Regions from separate parts of the Homo sapiens genome. Here region 2 is linked to region 1. Evidence: fine-mapped expression QTL. A gene starts in region 1. The other region holds a variant in brackets. All regions are shown on one strand. Distances are between the middles of the regions.

What was found. PIP is the estimated chance that this variant, and not a neighbour inherited with it, causes the effect. A credible set is the group of variants that fine-mapping cannot tell apart.
Region 2: its variant is the best candidate, but not a certain one, in a credible set for the expression of NREP in whole blood (INTERVAL, PIP 0.88).

The regions. Positions count from the first base shown.
Region 1 is chr5:111,755,399-111,759,794 of GRCh38, forward strand. NREP (neuronal regeneration related protein) reads right to left here and starts at 1,796. Exons shown (of 4, transcript NM_004772.4): 1 at 1,738-1,796; 2 at 372-432. The coding sequence starts at 374. RefSeq lists an enhancer at 996-1,553 and silencers at 2,147-2,546, 2,567-2,926.
Region 2 is chr5:111,728,490-111,732,885 of GRCh38, forward strand. NREP (neuronal regeneration related protein) reads right to left here. Exons shown (of 4, transcript NM_004772.4): 4 at 814-2,557. The coding sequence ends at 2,432. It overlaps STARD4-AS1 (STARD4 antisense RNA 1), which reads left to right. Exons shown (of 7, transcript NR_040093.1): 4 at 48-271; 5 at 1,002-1,191; 6 at 3,292-4,396. Among named protein-coding and RNA genes, the nearest start is that of NREP, 27 kb to the right of the region's middle. The variant T/TGG (reference allele first, on the strand shown) is at 2,050.

The sequences.
Region 1 (4,396 bases):
GCCTAGCTCTAAGACCCAAGGCTTTGTTTGAGCCCTACTGCTGTCACCACCTCCATGCGTGTCACAACACATCACTCTTCTTAAAGAACCGAATAGTTTCTGTTGTTCAAATTAAATAAATCCTCACTTCTGAAAGAGGAATTTTAGTTTTCTATTCAAAATAATTGCAAGTCAAAGAACTAATTTGCCACATCCAATTCACATAAATTGCTGTACTGCAACGCTCCCAGGAACTGGAGATAGAACCTTTTAAAGGTCAGATGGGGTGTAGAACAATGAAGGGTTGAGGCGGATGAAGATGGGTGGTTGATATTTATATGTAACAGACTGGTAAGAAGTACTGAGAATCTCCTCTGATGACCAAGTCTTACCATTTTGAGAATCTTAGTCTTGGGCTTCTATTCTCCCTCTCTTCAGTCCAGGGAGACCAACCTGCAAAATATGTTTAAATACAGTAGACACATCGCCTCACCACAGGTCAGCAAACGAAAAATGCCTCTTTAGAGGTTACAGACGAATAACCATTTTCTGTGGTTAAGATAAGTTACATGCAAATTATTGTTAACTACTGGGATTTCTGAAAGAGCTTTCCAAGTGGCCTATAGGCTTAACTAAGGGACAAAGGAATCCCTGGTACTTGGCTTTGCAGAGTCCTGGGCTATTCTTAGTGTTTGGTTCATCTTTAAATTGCATGAGTTCAAAAGGTTTAGCAACTTAAAAGTAGAACCAAGTGATAAAAATAGATTGTTTTCTGGCTGCTCTTTGTTCCCAGACATACTACTGGCAGTATATTTGCAATCAAGACGACAGAATAGGAATCAGCCTTCCACCGTGTAGTGTAATGCCTCAGAGTGGATATTTTTGGAAATGGCACTGCATTACATAACCTTCCGTGTTTAAAAAAAAAAAAAAAACCCTACACGGCGGGGGGGGTGGGGGGAGTCAGGAATATACACCATTCTGTCCTTCTCCCTAAACCAAATAAACATTAATGTACATACTGCTGCAGTGATTTACCCTCAACCTTTATATTATCAGAAGACCGCTCTTTTGTTAACACAGTTATGACAAAAATTAAGATGAATGGAGAAACTAAAAGTTCTCAAAAAGGGTATCATTCGCTCTTAGAGTTTTCCTATAATGTTATTATAGATACACATAAATGCACATCAGATTATTATAATCACCAAGAAAAAAACAGTCATTTATTTTTAAGGCCCTCCCCGCCAAAGTTCAACTGCTTTATAAGAAAATGCAGAAAAAAGTGCTGCAAGATCGAATGCCTAAGAAGACCCTCGGAAGCAGCAGCATTGAAAGAGTAATCAAGTGTAAGGGCGGAGGGACACAAATTCATTTTATAAAAAGGGAGGAAAAGCTTGCATGCACCAAAGTGCATTTAATGCAAAGAAACACAACAGTTTCTAACAAGGCTTTAGGAGCAAGAAGAACAAAATTAACCACACCAACAAGCACAAAACCCCACCCCTTCCCAAAAGAATTCATTTCTCCCTCCGAACTTGTGCATTTTAGAAAAAACCCAAGTTAAATTCCAGCCTGAATGCAGCACAACCAAAATGCCAGAATTTCTCCAAGGTACACGCTTCAGCTCTTTAAAATTTAGAGGGAAGAAGCATGAACTCTGCAGGGTTGAAGGGTCCAGCTAAGAGCAACGGCAAGGAATCGACACAAAAGAGAAACCAGCGCTCCCAGCCGGGGATAGGAATGGCATATACTTACAGACAAAAGCCCCGCTCCCTGTTCACTCTCTCTCCTCTCTACACCTGAAACACAAATGTGGTTGAAAAAGGGCAACATGCTAGAAAGACAGATTGGGGGGGGAGGGGGGATTGGGGGAGGGAGGGGGAGGGGAAAGGGGTGGAGGAAGAGGAGGGAGGAGGGGGAAGGGAAACAAAACCCAAACCGGCTTCACTTCCAAGAAGTGCAGCCTTGGAAAAAGGAGGAGGAGATCATCTCCCTGCCTCGCGCTCTCTCTCCAAGAGTGTGTGTGTCTCTCTCTTTCTCTAAGAGTCTCTCTCTCTCCCTTTCCCTCTCTCTCCCGCTAGGGTGCTAGTGAACAATGAGCTAATTCTGATGGAGCTGGCGCGGAGCCAGCGCCCCAGCCTTGCTGCCACTGTGCAGCCGCCTAGGAGCCAGACTGCTTACTCGGCAGGAATCGGCGGCTCTGGGCCCCGTCGGCGAGCGGCCAACAGGCGCGCGCGCCCCGACACCCCGCACCCGCGCCCCGGGCGCCCCGCTCGCCGCGCCGTCCCCACTGCACCGCGCGGCGCCCCGGGGAGACAAAGCGGACCCGCAGCTCTGCGCCCCGGCCCCGCCCCGGGAGCACGGCGCGCGCAAATCCCCGGCCTTCCTCCCCGCCCCCGGCCAGCCTCTCCGCCTCGACGTGCGGTTGCTTTTCAGACAAATAAGGAGGTGGAGGAGGCGGTTTGGGGGCGCGCCAAGCGTGAAGGCGGCCAGGGTGCTGCACAGCCCGGCGGCCCGCCAGGGCCGTGGGGAGAGGCGGCGCGGCCCGTACTGTAATAATAAACCTGCAGCAGAGGGCATCTGAGGAAAAGAGGACGGCGACGGGCGGCAGCCGCCTTCCTTTTATGTGCCTGTCCTGAGCGAAGCAGAAAATGGTGCCTGCGGCGGCGCGGAGCCGCGCTCAGACACACAAAGAGTCCGCGAAGGATGCATTTGCACACGGCCTCGGGTCGGACCCTGCCCCTCAGCTGGGTACGCGCGCCCCACTCCCTTCCGCGGGGAAGCCCGGGGCGGGGAGCGCCCCTGAAGGCCGGGCCCAGAGGTCCTGTGGCTGCGCGTGCACACACACACGTGCACACAGTCACACGCGCACAACCAGCCAGAGCTGCGGCCTGGCGTGATCGGCCCAAGACATACTCCCCTGGTGCTTCCTTCTCCTTCCCTATACGCTCCCCCACTGCCTGCCCGTCTGAAATTGTACTTTTTAAAATCGAGGATTGCTTTAAAAAATAAAGTGCTTTGCCATTTCTGATTTTTGTAAACTCGTCGTTCTTATTTAAAATCTATCTTTTCATAGTAATGTAATAGCTCAAAATTTTGCAACAAACTCAAATAAACTGGTTCTGTTGCCAATAAAGCAGGATATCATTTTATGGTAACTCTCAGATGTCACAGGAGAAGATTATTTCCTAATTAAATTGCCTTTCCAAGAAAAAAAGATATAAAGGATCATAGTGTCTTCTAAATTTGCCATCCACTTTTTCCCCTAATCACTGAAAGCAATGTTTTCCATTGTAACAAAGAAAATAAGGCAAATTTACAAAACTCAATTTTTAAACGTGTTTACAGAATGTCTGATGTTTTAGATTTAACATACTGGGTACAGCAATAGCAAACCTTAAAAAGCAATACTTTACACTCACAATTCTAAAAGAATGCACTGAGTTCTCTGTATGCTTGTTGCTGGGACTATAGGTCACCTTTAAAACTACAAAGCCATTGCCACAACAAATGCCTGTTAGACTGCACTGGGTATGATGTTTAAGGAGCCCACTGAAAGCTTCTCTGAATTAATCTAAAACATCACAGTAATTTTCCTGCAAAAATAAGATGATTTGGCAGCCATAGCTAGGAACAAAGGGAAGAAATATAAAACTCAACAAATTCCCTTGACCCTTTCAGGCCAGTTTACCAGCCAGGGAAGTACTGGAAGGAAGGTGTAAGGCATAGGCTGGGTGGTGGGAGAGGGGAGACGCCTGGGGGCTGATCTGCAAGTCTGGAACCCCAACACGCTGCTCAAGGGCACCTCAACATTGAGATCTTTGGCATTCACCTCAGGGTCAGGCTGGGAAAGGACCCCAAGGGCGCACCATCAAATCAGACTACCAAAAATCTATCCCAGTGATATTTGTTCAAAAGCTGCTTCTACAAGGAAACATACATATAAACACATACATACACAGGGACTTTAACGTTTATGTAAAACTTCCCTAAGATGTTCTTTCACAGAGAAGTGTTAATTTTTCTTTCTTTCTTTCTTTCTTTTTTTTTTTTTAAGAAATGGAGACTTACCATGTTACCATGTTGCCCGGTCTCAAACTCCTGGATTCAGGCAATCCTCACTACGGCCTCCCAAAGTGCTGGGATTACAGGCACAAGCCACCTCTCTTGGCCAATTTTTCTTCATTGTAATGATAGACATTCAGGTGACAGATTTTTAAGTATTAAGAACACTGGGTCAGATTCATAGCTTATTTATCTGTTGTGTTCCAGAAAACGGTTATCATCCAACTATCCAAGAAACATTCTTGAGTCTCCTCTAGGTGAAGGGGGCTGTGCTAATCACTTAAGGATATATGAGAAACTCATGCCATGTCACCTCACTCAAACTGTAGCTATAGCTGTCTCACAGTCC
Region 2 (4,396 bases), 27 kb before region 1:
CCTGTTAACTTTAGCTCTTTTTTCTCTCTCTGGCTTTTATCTCACAGGTCTGTTCCTTAGTCTCTGTTGAGGTGAAACTCCAATATCTGAACCCACCAGCCAAATAAGCAACCTGTGTACAAGCCAAGTTAAAATTTCACTCCCGTAATGGATGAGGAGAAACCAGAAGACATTTCTCATGCACAGGGAGTGCATGAATCCCCTGAATTGCCAGGTTTCAGGGTCACATGAGACCTCTAGAAGGCTCTGCTCATCATCACCTTATCATCTGGTAGGTTCCAGGTATCTGGGTACACATGAATTAAGCCTTAATGACTTTAAATTCTGTCTCAAATTTTTATCCTCTTACAAAAGTTTAAGCTTTTTGTCTGAGGAAAAGTGCACATATTCCATGAAGAAGGGAGGTCAGATCTCTTTTGGCAGGGAAAAAGAAAGAATACCACAGAGTGGGTCTTAAAGAATACCACAGAGTGGGTCTTAATGGCAAGGAGTGAGAAAGAGTAAGTTTTGAAGCGTATGGGAATGCCTTGGAAGGGAGAAAAAGTGTAGAAATAAAAGGATCTTGGTCTAATTCTGCTTTGTGTCCAGAGGCAGCTCTGCAAATACCATCTTAATGAGCCACTGCCTAGCCCCTAATCTCATAAAATCCTCAAAAGGGAAAACGCATGAAAGGCAGAGCTGATTCTCTCTCTTTTGATATTTGCCCTTGGGTTTGCTGGCCTGACTTCTGGGGCTCTGGAAACACATGAATTAGCAAGAACCAGAGAAGACATTCAAAACTAGGCCTCTTCAATGATGAGCCAAATCAGACAGTTACCTTACAGCTTGCGTATTTATTGAACAAATACTACTAAAATAGCTAAAATACATTGGGTACTTGTCATGAGTGCATCAGTAAAGATCACACTGTTACAAAAGCCTGCATTTTCAGCAGTACACAACTGCAACTCTACATAAATGCCACAGATGCAGAATACTGTTTTCTTGCTCTATTTACACAGCTGATATACCTATTCTAACGAAGGAGGGAGAGGAGTAATGCACAAGAAACTCAGGCCAATGGGGGAGCAAGAAGAAAACGAAGAAGTGCAGTGCATGCGTCATCGGTGTTTAACAGTCAGAAGCGAAACAGTTCAGAACAAGGCCTGCCCTGTCAAAAGAAGAGCTAAAGACAGTTATATAAAAATTAAGGTGGGCTTTCAGACTGGCTAACACAACAACATTCCATGAGTAGATGGTAATTTATTTTTGTTTATCCATTTCGTTGGGAGCAAGGACAAAAATGTAAATCTACACCTTGCTTATCAAAATTGCCGAAAAAAGAATGCTCTGCCTTTTAAAAAAGTATCATGATTTTGTAGACCTTGTTTTCCAATTTAATATTTGGAAAAGGTGTCATTTTCATATTCCCACTCAGATGCCAGTGTTTTGGGTTTTTTTCCAGGGGGAGTTTATTTAAAACGGTTTTGCTCTTTTTTTCGACAAATATCCTTTCAAACAGAAAGAACCCAAAGAGACACCTCAAAATGCCTGTAAAATTATTGCTTTTCTTTCTCTAAGTCAGGCAGGCGAGGCTACGGAAAGGAAGAGATTTGGTAAGTAAATTACAGTTTTGTGATTGCTCCCGCTACCGTGACTGCATGTCCGTGAGCGCCAGCCAACGAGACAATGGTCTCTCACACTCTGGTAGCATTCGCTCAACCTACAACACTGAGGAAGAAAGCCACACTGAAGACACAAGGAAAACAAGTCAATCCAGTCTAGAGAACAACATTCAGGGAAACAGAGTACCAACACCTTCTTAGAACATGGAAATAAAAAATAACTCCATCAGAGCTACCTCGCCAAGGAGCATGTTGAAAGTCCAAAATAGCACCATTCATCAGTGTCTCAGGTCCTGTGGCAGCATCTCGGTCACTTACCACAAGGAAACAATGAGTTTCAAACTACTTCTATACATCAAAAGAGTACATGGATAAAATATAGAGATATACAGACAATTGATGAACATAAACTACTAGGTTTGTTACATCTAAATGAAAAAAAAGG[T/TGG]GGGGGGGGGACTCTCAGCCTCTGCAAGAAGCAGTCGGGAGCTGTGTGAGTGAAAAGGCAGGAGTGGACCGGTTGTGTGAGCGCGGTGGGAGTTTGAGTTGTGGAAGACATTGTTGTAGCGAACCAGGCCTGAAGGCCCACCTGTAAGGGTTGTAAACGTGGATTCACAGTGTGAAATTCTGAGCGTTTTCACTTGAGTCAGAATGATTAAAAACTGGTTTGATGACACCTATTTGTCCACTGTAAATTCTCTAAAGCAAGGCTCAGAGTCCCATAGTTTCTTCTTATACTTGATGATTTACACAGAAAAAAATCCCATATATGATACCATGACCTCATCAATACCCATACACCATATGTAATACAAATGGAGGTGTTACGATTAAAAAAAGTGGAGGTAACTGATTCTTGGGGAGCGGAGTTCACTGCTGCCCAGTGGAGTCAGGGAGGCAGCGTTTGTCTCATCGTTCTTCTTGCGGTTCACTTCCTTTGGGACAGGAAGTCTTCCCTGCAAAGCAGGCAGACCCACACACAGACAGACACACATAAAAGACAAAATTAGTCATGCTTCTGAAACCATTTTTTAAAATTTTGCTTTTCCTGCCCAGCCCACATTATACCCTTGAACTCTTGCTGTTTTGCAAAACAGAGTTTACATATTAAACACAGTTCACCTGAATGTAAATATTAGGTCTGTGAGGAAATGAAGTAATTAAACACTGGCCACCTTTGCTTCAGTAGAATGAAGTGCTTCTGTTACGGTGGTGCCAGCCATGTGTGAGGCAGCATTCCCCAGTGTCAGGTTTCTTGGGACAGTTTCTAGTATCAGATAGGGCCCAACCTTAGACTGGGTGATTGATAGATACTCACAGGAGTGTCAGTTGATAATTATAAAAAAAAAAAAAAAGAGTCCAGTGGGTGTGATGAAGACGGGTTAACAATCTATTTTCTAATATGTAATAAAAATATTTAAAAACGTATCTCAACTTGCATCAATCTTATCTATGTATGGCTTATTCTATGTGCAATCGGCGCATGACAGAAGTGGCTACCAAAGATGGGAAGTGTCTGTCTGGGAGAGAAATGATGTGAGGGTGCCCAGACAGCGGTCATAGGAAAGTGGGGGCTAGTGGGGAAACCAAGGCCAGAAGAGAGTGAGATTCAGCTCATCTAGACTGACTGGGGCTATTCTAAGGCTCTCCTCACAATCCTGATGAGAAAGGTTTTTGTGTTTCTGACTAGAATAACTCAATCTCAGTGTGACTACTGATCCGCCGCCACGTGGCTTCCCGGACACACTGCTGCAGCGCCAACAGTGGAGAGGAGCTCTCCATCACAACCAGACAGCAGAAGCACAGCACAGTGAAGCACACCTGCCCACATGATGCACAATACAGGTATTCATTTACAACAGATAGATTTTATGCCCTGTACAGGTATGAACACAGTGAAGATTTGACGATGGTCTCTCTTTCAGCTGAACTCTGGAGTTTTAATTACTGACATTTTCTTGGAAGAAATTATCCTTTGTGGTTTTAAAACATGTGGGCTTTTTTTTTTGTTGCTCAAGTCACATGTTCTAACAAGACAGTTTTAATAAGCCAGTTTGACTAGATGTAAAGTACTTGGATTAAAGTGATAATCTTACTTTGTGGCCTATAAATTAACACATCTGAATTTCTTTTTAAGAATTCAGAAACCAGTAACTTCCAAACAACTTGAAATTGAATAAATATTTTCAGCAACCCAGGGGTGAACTAAATGCAACAGATTATTCAACTTTAAAAAGTCTTACTTACTGTACAGATTTTCCATATTAAACATCTGGTATGCCTCAATTTTTTACTTAAAAGTCTCGGACTTTGAGAGCATACAGCATTTTTTGCACATATATAACCATGATGTACTTTAATATTCCAATCTTAGGTTGTGATTTTAGAGGTTGTTTTGGTATCATTAAATACCAATGGGACCAAACCAGAAAATTAAATAAAAATATAATTCACCACTCACACACCCTTAAGGGTCTAGATTCAATTTCCAAAAGCATAATATTGGGTAGTTACTTGCAGTTGTGAAAATAATTTCAATCTTGGAATCTTGGTACACAGTCCCAAAATTTAAAAAAAAAAAAAAAAAAAGGAAATCCACTGTAATCCCAGTGTCTTTAAAATAATGCTGCCAGCCCGACCCCACCTCACCCCACAGTCAACCAGTTACCATGGTTCAGGATAGGACAAACTTAGGTTTTGGACAAATGAAGAGTTCAATGGCTGTTAATTGTCACAGGCAAGAAAAGAAGGAAAACCAAAAGTTGATAAATGTTAACTCAACAATTATAGTCTTT